Homo sapiens: one gene and its partner. The protein of the gene in region 2 interacts with the protein of the main gene of each other region in a biochemical or structural test. Each region holds a gene or a part of one and is shown on either strand. Other genes may lie near its edges. The genes, in order: CUL1 and FBXW8.

The links.
Region 1: the proteins of FBXW8 (region 2) and CUL1 form a complex in vitro, tested with the Homo sapiens proteins (one study listed by BioGRID).

The regions. Positions count from the first base shown.
Region 1 is NC_000007.14:148,750,768-148,754,591, forward strand, and holds part of CUL1 (cullin-1), read left to right. Parts: intron 1-3,208; coding exon 3,209-3,383; intron 3,384-3,824. UniProt on the Homo sapiens protein: Core component of multiple cullin-RING-based SCF (SKP1-CUL1-F-box protein) E3 ubiquitin-protein ligase complexes, which mediate the ubiquitination of proteins involved in cell cycle progression, signal transduction and transcription.
Region 2 is NC_000012.12:116,987,300-116,991,123, reverse strand, and holds part of FBXW8 (F-box/WD repeat-containing protein 8), read right to left. Parts: exon of another isoform or gene 3,787-3,824; intron 2,462-3,786; coding exon 2,255-2,461; intron 1-2,254. UniProt on the Homo sapiens protein: Substrate-recognition component of the Cul7-RING(FBXW8) ubiquitin ligase complex, which mediates the ubiquitination and subsequent proteasomal degradation of target proteins.

The DNA of each region.
Region 1 (3,824 bases), on a different chromosome or scaffold from region 2:
CGAGTGATCACTTACCATTCTGAAAATCCTAAGGCCCTTAAGAATTATGCTAAGTCAAGCCAATGTGGTGACCCGTGCCTGTATTTTCAGCTTCACAGGAGGCTAAGGTGGGAGGATCACTTCAGACCAAGAGTTTGAGGCAGTAGCCTGCTATGATCATGTCTGTGAATAGCCACTGCTCTCCAGCCTGGGCAACATAGTGAGATCCTGTCTCTTTAAAAAAAAAAAAAAACAAAACAAAACTGTCTATGCCCTAGAAATGGATATTAAAACCATAATAAACCACAGTATGAATGCAAGGCCAAGGTTGTGGTCGATGAAAACTCATGCACTACAGGGTGCTGGATAGCCGCTTTGTAGCACTAAGTTGGCAACTCTTAATAAAGTTAAACCCACCACTTTGGGAGGCCAAACAGGAGGATTGCTTGAGCCCAAGAATTTTGGACCAGCCAGGGCAACATAGCAAGACCCCATCTCTACAAAAAATTGTTTAAAAGGGCCTGGCAAGGTGGCTCACATCTGTAATCCTAGCAACTTTGGGAGGTCGAGGCAGGTGGATTGCCTGAGGTCAGGAGTTCAAGACCAACCTGACCAATATGGTGAAACCCTGTCTCTACTAAAAATACAAAAATTAGCCAGGAATGGTGGCAGGCGCCCGTAATCACATCTACTCAGGAGAATCGCTTGATCCCGGGAGGCAGAGGTTGCAGTGAGCCGAGATTACATCACTGCACTACAGCCTGGGAGACAGAGTGAGACTCTGTCTCAAAAAAAAAAAAAAAAAAAACCTCTCTTGTCACTTTGTCACTTAGTATTTCTGTGCTCCAAGAAACTTGTACTCAAGGAGACCTGCTAGTTTTATTCTTTGCAGCTTTGTAAATACACAAAAAATAGGTATCTGCCAAAAGGACTATTAGCAAGGTCCACCACCAAGAGAGTTGATGAAGTATTGTAAATGTGCGTTACACAGTATATTACAGCTGCGGCTATGTCAGATACCATCAAAAACAAATGGCAGAGCAAATGTACATATTACAGTTTGTATAATTTAAAAATGTAGAACATGGCCAGACGCGGTGGCTCACGCCTGTAATCCCAGCAGTTTGGGAGGCCGAGGAGGCTGGATAGCCTGAAGTTGGGAGTTTGAGACCAGCCTGACCTACATGGAGAAACCTCATGTCTACTAAACATACAAAATTAGCCAGGCGTGGTGGCGCCTGCCTGTAACCACAGCTACTCGGGAGGCTGAGGCAGGAGAATCGCTTGAACCCAGGAGGTAGAGGTTGTGAGCTGAGATCACGCCATTGCACTCCAGTCTGGGCAACAAGAGTGAAACTCCATCTCAAAAAAAACAAAACAAAATGTAGAACATGTGAAATATATTTGATACACATTTATCCAGCAAAATATAAAAACATAGGAATGATATATACCAAATCATGGTGCTATTTGCTAGGGTAAGAGGAAGGAGTGGGATGAAAGAGGGAGAATATAGTGCTTCACTTATAACCTGTAATATTTTATTTTCTCAAAAGTTGAGGGAGGCTGTAGGTGGAATATGAGACAAGTGTGGGAATGCAGTAAGATCTATCAAAACTGGGTCATGAGTATACAGTAGTTGTTTATTGTAATCTGTGATTCTCTATACAATTGAAATAGTTAATAATTTTTCATTGTTTTAAAGTATAGTTCTTTGATTATTACCTAGATTGGTTATTTTATTAGGTTTGGGGGCATTAGTATATATTTATTTTACCTTTTAGATTTTCTGTGGTATATTTTGTTCATGTTTCCATAGAGATTCATTTTTTTAATTGCTTTAAATTACCTTAATTTATTAAAGATAGTTTAAGGTATTTCATCTTAATCTACAATTTTGAATTTATTTATTTATTTTTTGAGACAGAGTCTTGCTCTGTCGCCCAGGCTGGAGTGCAGTGGCATGATCTCAGCTCGCTGCAAGCTCCGCCTCCCGGGTTCATGCCATTCTCCTGCCTCAGCCTCCCGAGTAGCTGGGACTACAGGCGCCTGCCACCACGCCCGGCTAATTTTTTGTGTGTGTTTTTAGTAGAGATGGGGTTTCACCGTGTTAGCCAGGATGGTCTCAATCTCCTGACCTTGTGATCCACCTGTCTCGGCCTCCCAGAGTGCTGGGATTACAGGCGCGAGCCACCGCGCCCAGCCTGAATTCATTTTTTTGTGTGATCTTACTTAGAAAGGGCCGCTCCAGCCTGAGAACAGATAAGCGTTCACATATATATTCTTGGTTTTACTGTTTTAGCTTGTATATTTTAAATCTTAATCCATTTGTAATATATTTTGGAATATAACATGGAATATTTAGAAATATCTTGCCCTCATGCCATTTATTAGATAATCTATCTTTTACCCGTTGTCTTGAAGTATCTTTATATAGTAAATTCTTAATTATACCAGAATATTGTTTTGTTCTGTTTTGTTGATCTTTCTGAGTATAAGTATCTTTCCGTTCATTTTATTCAATTAATAATACATGCAGATAAGCTCATCATATTTAAAGGATACAACAGAACACGGTGGTTTTCTGCCCTGCCTGGCCCCATCTTCTCATTCTCTGCGCTCCCCCTGCAGATGCAGCTGTTTTGCAATCAGCTGTCTGTGCTGTGGTTTATACATCTCTCTCTTTCTCAGGAGTGTGTGGACACTGCTGCCGTTCACTGATAAGTTTTAGATGGCTATGACTATTGTAATATAAGGACTTGGCTCTCTGAGTCATTTTAAAATAAAGTTTGTGTTATTTCAATATTTAGAATCTGTGCCTCTGAAAAAGTTACAGCTGAGCATCATAATAGACAGTGCTTATTGTTAGCTTTTTGTTTTTCCTGGAGTCAGTAATTGCATTTTTCTTTTGGGACAGTTTTCCACAAGGTCAGTCACATCAGATAATCTAAAAGGTCCAGATTTTTTTATAGGCAACCTCCCTCCTGGAATGTTCCCTTCTCCACCTTGGCGGTGTTGCTCTCAAGGCCTACCAACAACCTTGTGAATGGGGCTTGTTGACTTTTAGCTTTATGGATAGTGTGAATGGGATCTTTGTTCCATTCTAGTTTTTAACAGGTTTTGGTTGATATATTGGGAATGCATTGGTAATGAAATATAAGAAAATATGTTTATGTTAATGACCGTTAACGTCTGTGATATATGTTGGTTTCCTTAACTTTTCTCCAAGTCATGTTTATAACTACTGTACTAGTGTTCACCAGTCAAACCAAGCACGAGGAGCTGGAGTTCCTCCTTCTAAGTCGAAAAAGGGGCAGACACCTGGAGGAGCTCAGTTTGTTGGCCTGGAATTATATAAACGACTTAAGGAATTTTTGAAGAATTACTTGACAAATCTTCTTAAGGTAAGATGTTTTATATATATACTGAGTATTCATAACAGGATATAAAAAAAGTGAAATAATGGTTCTAACTTGTTAAATCTTTCACTGTCATCTGTTACTGTTTTAGACACTAACGTAGGTGACAGTGTTTTGCTATTGCATAGTCTTTTACCTACTGTGAATATGAAATCACCATAAACTATATTCTAGGGTTTTGTTTTTTCGAGATGGAGATCTCACTATGTTGCCCAGGCTGGATTTTTGATCTCCTGGGCTCAAGTGATCCTTCCACTTCGGCCTCCTGAGTAGCTGAGACTCTGCAAATGCTCACCACCGTGCCCAGCTCTTTCTGTTTTTTAAAATTAGAAAGCTTTGATAACCTTTTAGCATAATAGTGCTTTCGTTAAATTACCAACCATTTTGGATTTGGTTGTTAGAAATGATGAACTTTTTCATTTAAAG
Region 2 (3,824 bases):
TGGATGACTAAATGCTACTGTCAGCTTCCAAAGAGACATTTAGAAACATTCTTGCAGCAAATTTATTTCCACTCCTAATTTTAAAACACCAGCGAAAACACCAGCTTACAGGACTATACTTTTTTTGTGTGTGTGTGGTAGAGACAGGGTCTCACTATGTTACCCAGGCTGGTCTCAAACTCCCAGCCTCAAGCCATCCTCCTGACTTGGCCTCCCAGAGTGCTGGGATTACAGATGTGAGCCACTGTGCCCAGCCAGGGACTATACATTTTTAACCAAGGATTTTTCACAAAATTAATGTGTTTATCAGCTGATTCTTACAGTTAATGCTTTTAGTTGAGTTGGAAATTTTGAGAGGAATCAAAAAAACCCCACTGCCTTACATCTGTATCTGAAGGATCCTTGTGCTGAACTGTCCCTTTAAGTAGTTTCTCAAATGTATCCATTACAACTGTATTACTACAGGAATAAATCCATTCAGATAAGTCAAGGAGAAAACATTTATAAAAAGTATGAAAAATTTAAACCAGACTGGTACTGAATATAACTATCACCTCTCTATACTGAGAGCTCTAAAAATAAATGAGATAACACAAACTTGAAAGCATACCAGATGAAAAATTAGAAAGCAAAATGGTCTCCCCTCTCTCAACAAATGAGCTCACCAGGGATGGGAAAAGAAAGTTTTTTTAGAGCATGAGAAAGGAAACTGCCTTAGGAAACAATTCCTGCTCCTTCCCCACTTCCTGGGAAGACAAAACTCAGGAGTAATATCATGACACATCTTCCAGCTAGGACACAACGGAGATGCCCCAACCAAACTGCACACCAAATTTGCAGCACAAATGAGATGATAAAGTTTGCAGCACAAGGGGAGGCCTTTTCACAGTGAGATGATAAAGTTTCACATTGAGATGATAGGATGCCACACATATCGTCTACCGCTTAGTCTATCTTCCTGGATGAAGAATATATCACTGGGATCCAAGATGCTTCCATTCTTGACCATTTACTAGTTTGCAAAGCCAATCACACCTACATAAATGAGATTTGACCTTACAGGTCAAATACATGGAGGAAGTAAGATGTAAAAATAGGCACCACCAGAGGCTGGAATCCAACTATGGGTGGGAGGAATAACGGGAGGTTCAGGAGCTAACAGGTCGGGAGCTCTCATGTGCCAGGCACCATGCCTCAAGCTTTACATATGGCTTTTCATTTAATCCTACAACTCTAAGAAGCAGGCACTATTATGAACTCTATTTTACAAATGAGGAAACTGAGGCATAAAGAGGGTTAAGGAAACTACTAACAGTCACACAGGGTCTGCTGGCCCAGACACGTTCCTTCGCAGGAATCCCACCAACTGACAGAATGGGTCAGGAGCAGGGAAATTGGGAAAAAACCCAAAATGAAACAAAAACTTTCTCTCTCTCCCCCTTGGTCCCACTGGTAGGGAGAGTTCTATAAATCAGCTTTTAGACTAAGTATTTGGCCTATAGTCAGGATAGTAACATGCTAGGGAGTGATAAAATTTAGTCATCACTCAAAGAATTTCCATTAAAAACCTGTCTTCCTGCTTTTGGCTCAAAGAGCATCAGAATGCACTTTTATGCACTGTTGGTAAGAATGTGAATTCTGATGCACCTTTTTAGAAGGGCAATTTGAAAATGTCCATCATTATCTCAAGTACACATCCTAGAGATACACTATATATAAAAGGACTTCTGCAAGCTGCAATATGCATTGTAGCATTGCTTATAGCAGCCAACACAGTGAAAGCAAGCTAAACACCTACCAGTGAGGGGCCTGGCTAAACAGGCTATGAGCTAGAAGCATATGCTGGAATCCTAGAGAGGGAGAGCTTGGTAAAAGCTGACATGGAATCCTCTCTCCAAGGCACATTATGGAGTAAAAATGTTGGGTACAGAACACTATGTATACTATGATCCCATCTCTACAACAATATGTTTTTAGTATACAAATGTACCTATATATGCATTAAATTTTTCTAGATGGATACCTAAAAACTGTTAATAGTTTCTTCTGTGCAGGGAAGTTGGGGGAAGGGAGGAGAAAGAAAATGATTACTTTTCATTTGCAATCCTTTTGAAGTTCTTGAATTTTTTGACCATGCTTATATACTGGCCTGATATATCTGGAAAAATATTGAAGAGCTTTAATTTTTCAATTCCCTTCTAAAAAATAAATCTATATTCTTTTTTGTTAATTATATATCTTGCTAGTTGTGTACCTTGCTTCCTTCGTACACCCATCCCAGACCCTGTACACCAAAAGCAACTTGGTTGGCCGAGACGTCTAGACATGTGACAGGCGGGCCGTGGGCGTAAAGGAGGGTTCTGGCGGAGTCTTCGGCTTTGAGCAGGTACATCAGATCTCCAGCAGCGGCTACTGCCACAGGGTACCTTCTGGTTTCTGGAACTATTTCAAGGTACTGAACCTGTTAAAAGGTAAGAGTTGTTTAGTCCCATAAATTCATCCTGACTTGATCAAAAATATGCAATTCCACCTACACATCAATGAGAAGACCAGCAACCCAACAGAAAAAGATGGGCAAATGAAACACTCACAGGAAATGAAACACAAACAGCTCTTACACAACAGAAAAGATGCTCAGTATAAGAGAAACATAAGACACACCTAAAAAGAGAAATATAAAATGAAAATTCATTGAAATATGATGCTTCACCTTTCATATCGGTAAAGATCAAGAAATCTGATAACACCCTGGGCTGGAAGTGAAGGAGGGAAAACCATGTTCCATGTTTCTGGATCCCACTTACTGCTGGTGGGGATATAATCTTGTCCAACTTGTATCAAGGGAACTTTGGCTACTCTTATCAAAATACCAAATGAACATGCACTCTGACCCAGGATATCCACTTCTAGAAGTTACTTACAAATAAACTCACATATATAAAAAATGATTATGTACAAGGTTATTCATGAACTGTAGTACAATTGTGTCTTAGCTAAAAACTAGAAAAACAGAAACACCCATTACTAAGGGACTAATTAAATAACTCAGTGTATCTATACGCTGGAATACCATGCAGTCCTAGAGGGAAGCATGAAAACGTTCTTTATAAAACGAAACAAATGGCATGGTTCTCCCAGATAAGCTTAGCGGGTAAAGCAAGGATGCAAGATGAGTTAGGTAACCCCACCTGCTGACATGTGTACAAGGTGGGGGTGGAGAAAGTACACAATGCGCTTGACTCGCACATCCATACATCTTCTAACAATGGCTGCCTTCAAGGAGGGAAGTGGATTATGAGATGGGGAGATTTCCCACCATCAGCTTTATTGTGTCTTTTAAATTCTGAACCATGGGGATGTAATAGCAATTCAAAAAATAAAAGGTTGGGGTTTTTTTGGTTTTGTTGTGTTTTTTGTTTGTTTGTTTGTTTACAATGAACTGAATAAATAACATTCAGCTCCAAATTCGCAAAAAAAATTTTAACATTTGTGTCAAAATGTGTGGCCAAAAGGTTAAAAATATCCAAGTGATCTGCTGTCTCCTGGTTTCAACGTCATCAGGGTCCATTTGGCCACCAGAGGGTAAGGAAGGCTCTACAAACACGCATGTTTCTACCCACCCCGCTCCCCAGTCCTGACTGCGTCACCGCCGGCACTTTCTCTAATGTGCACGAGTCTGAGACGCACTTTTCAAGAATAATTTGATTCTGTCCATCCACAGGCGGCCCATTTCTCCGCGGTGCCGTTCGCAACAGGCTTTCGCCTCTGCGAGTAAATCACGAGAGGACACATAGAAGGTGAGCCACACTAATTATGAAAATCCA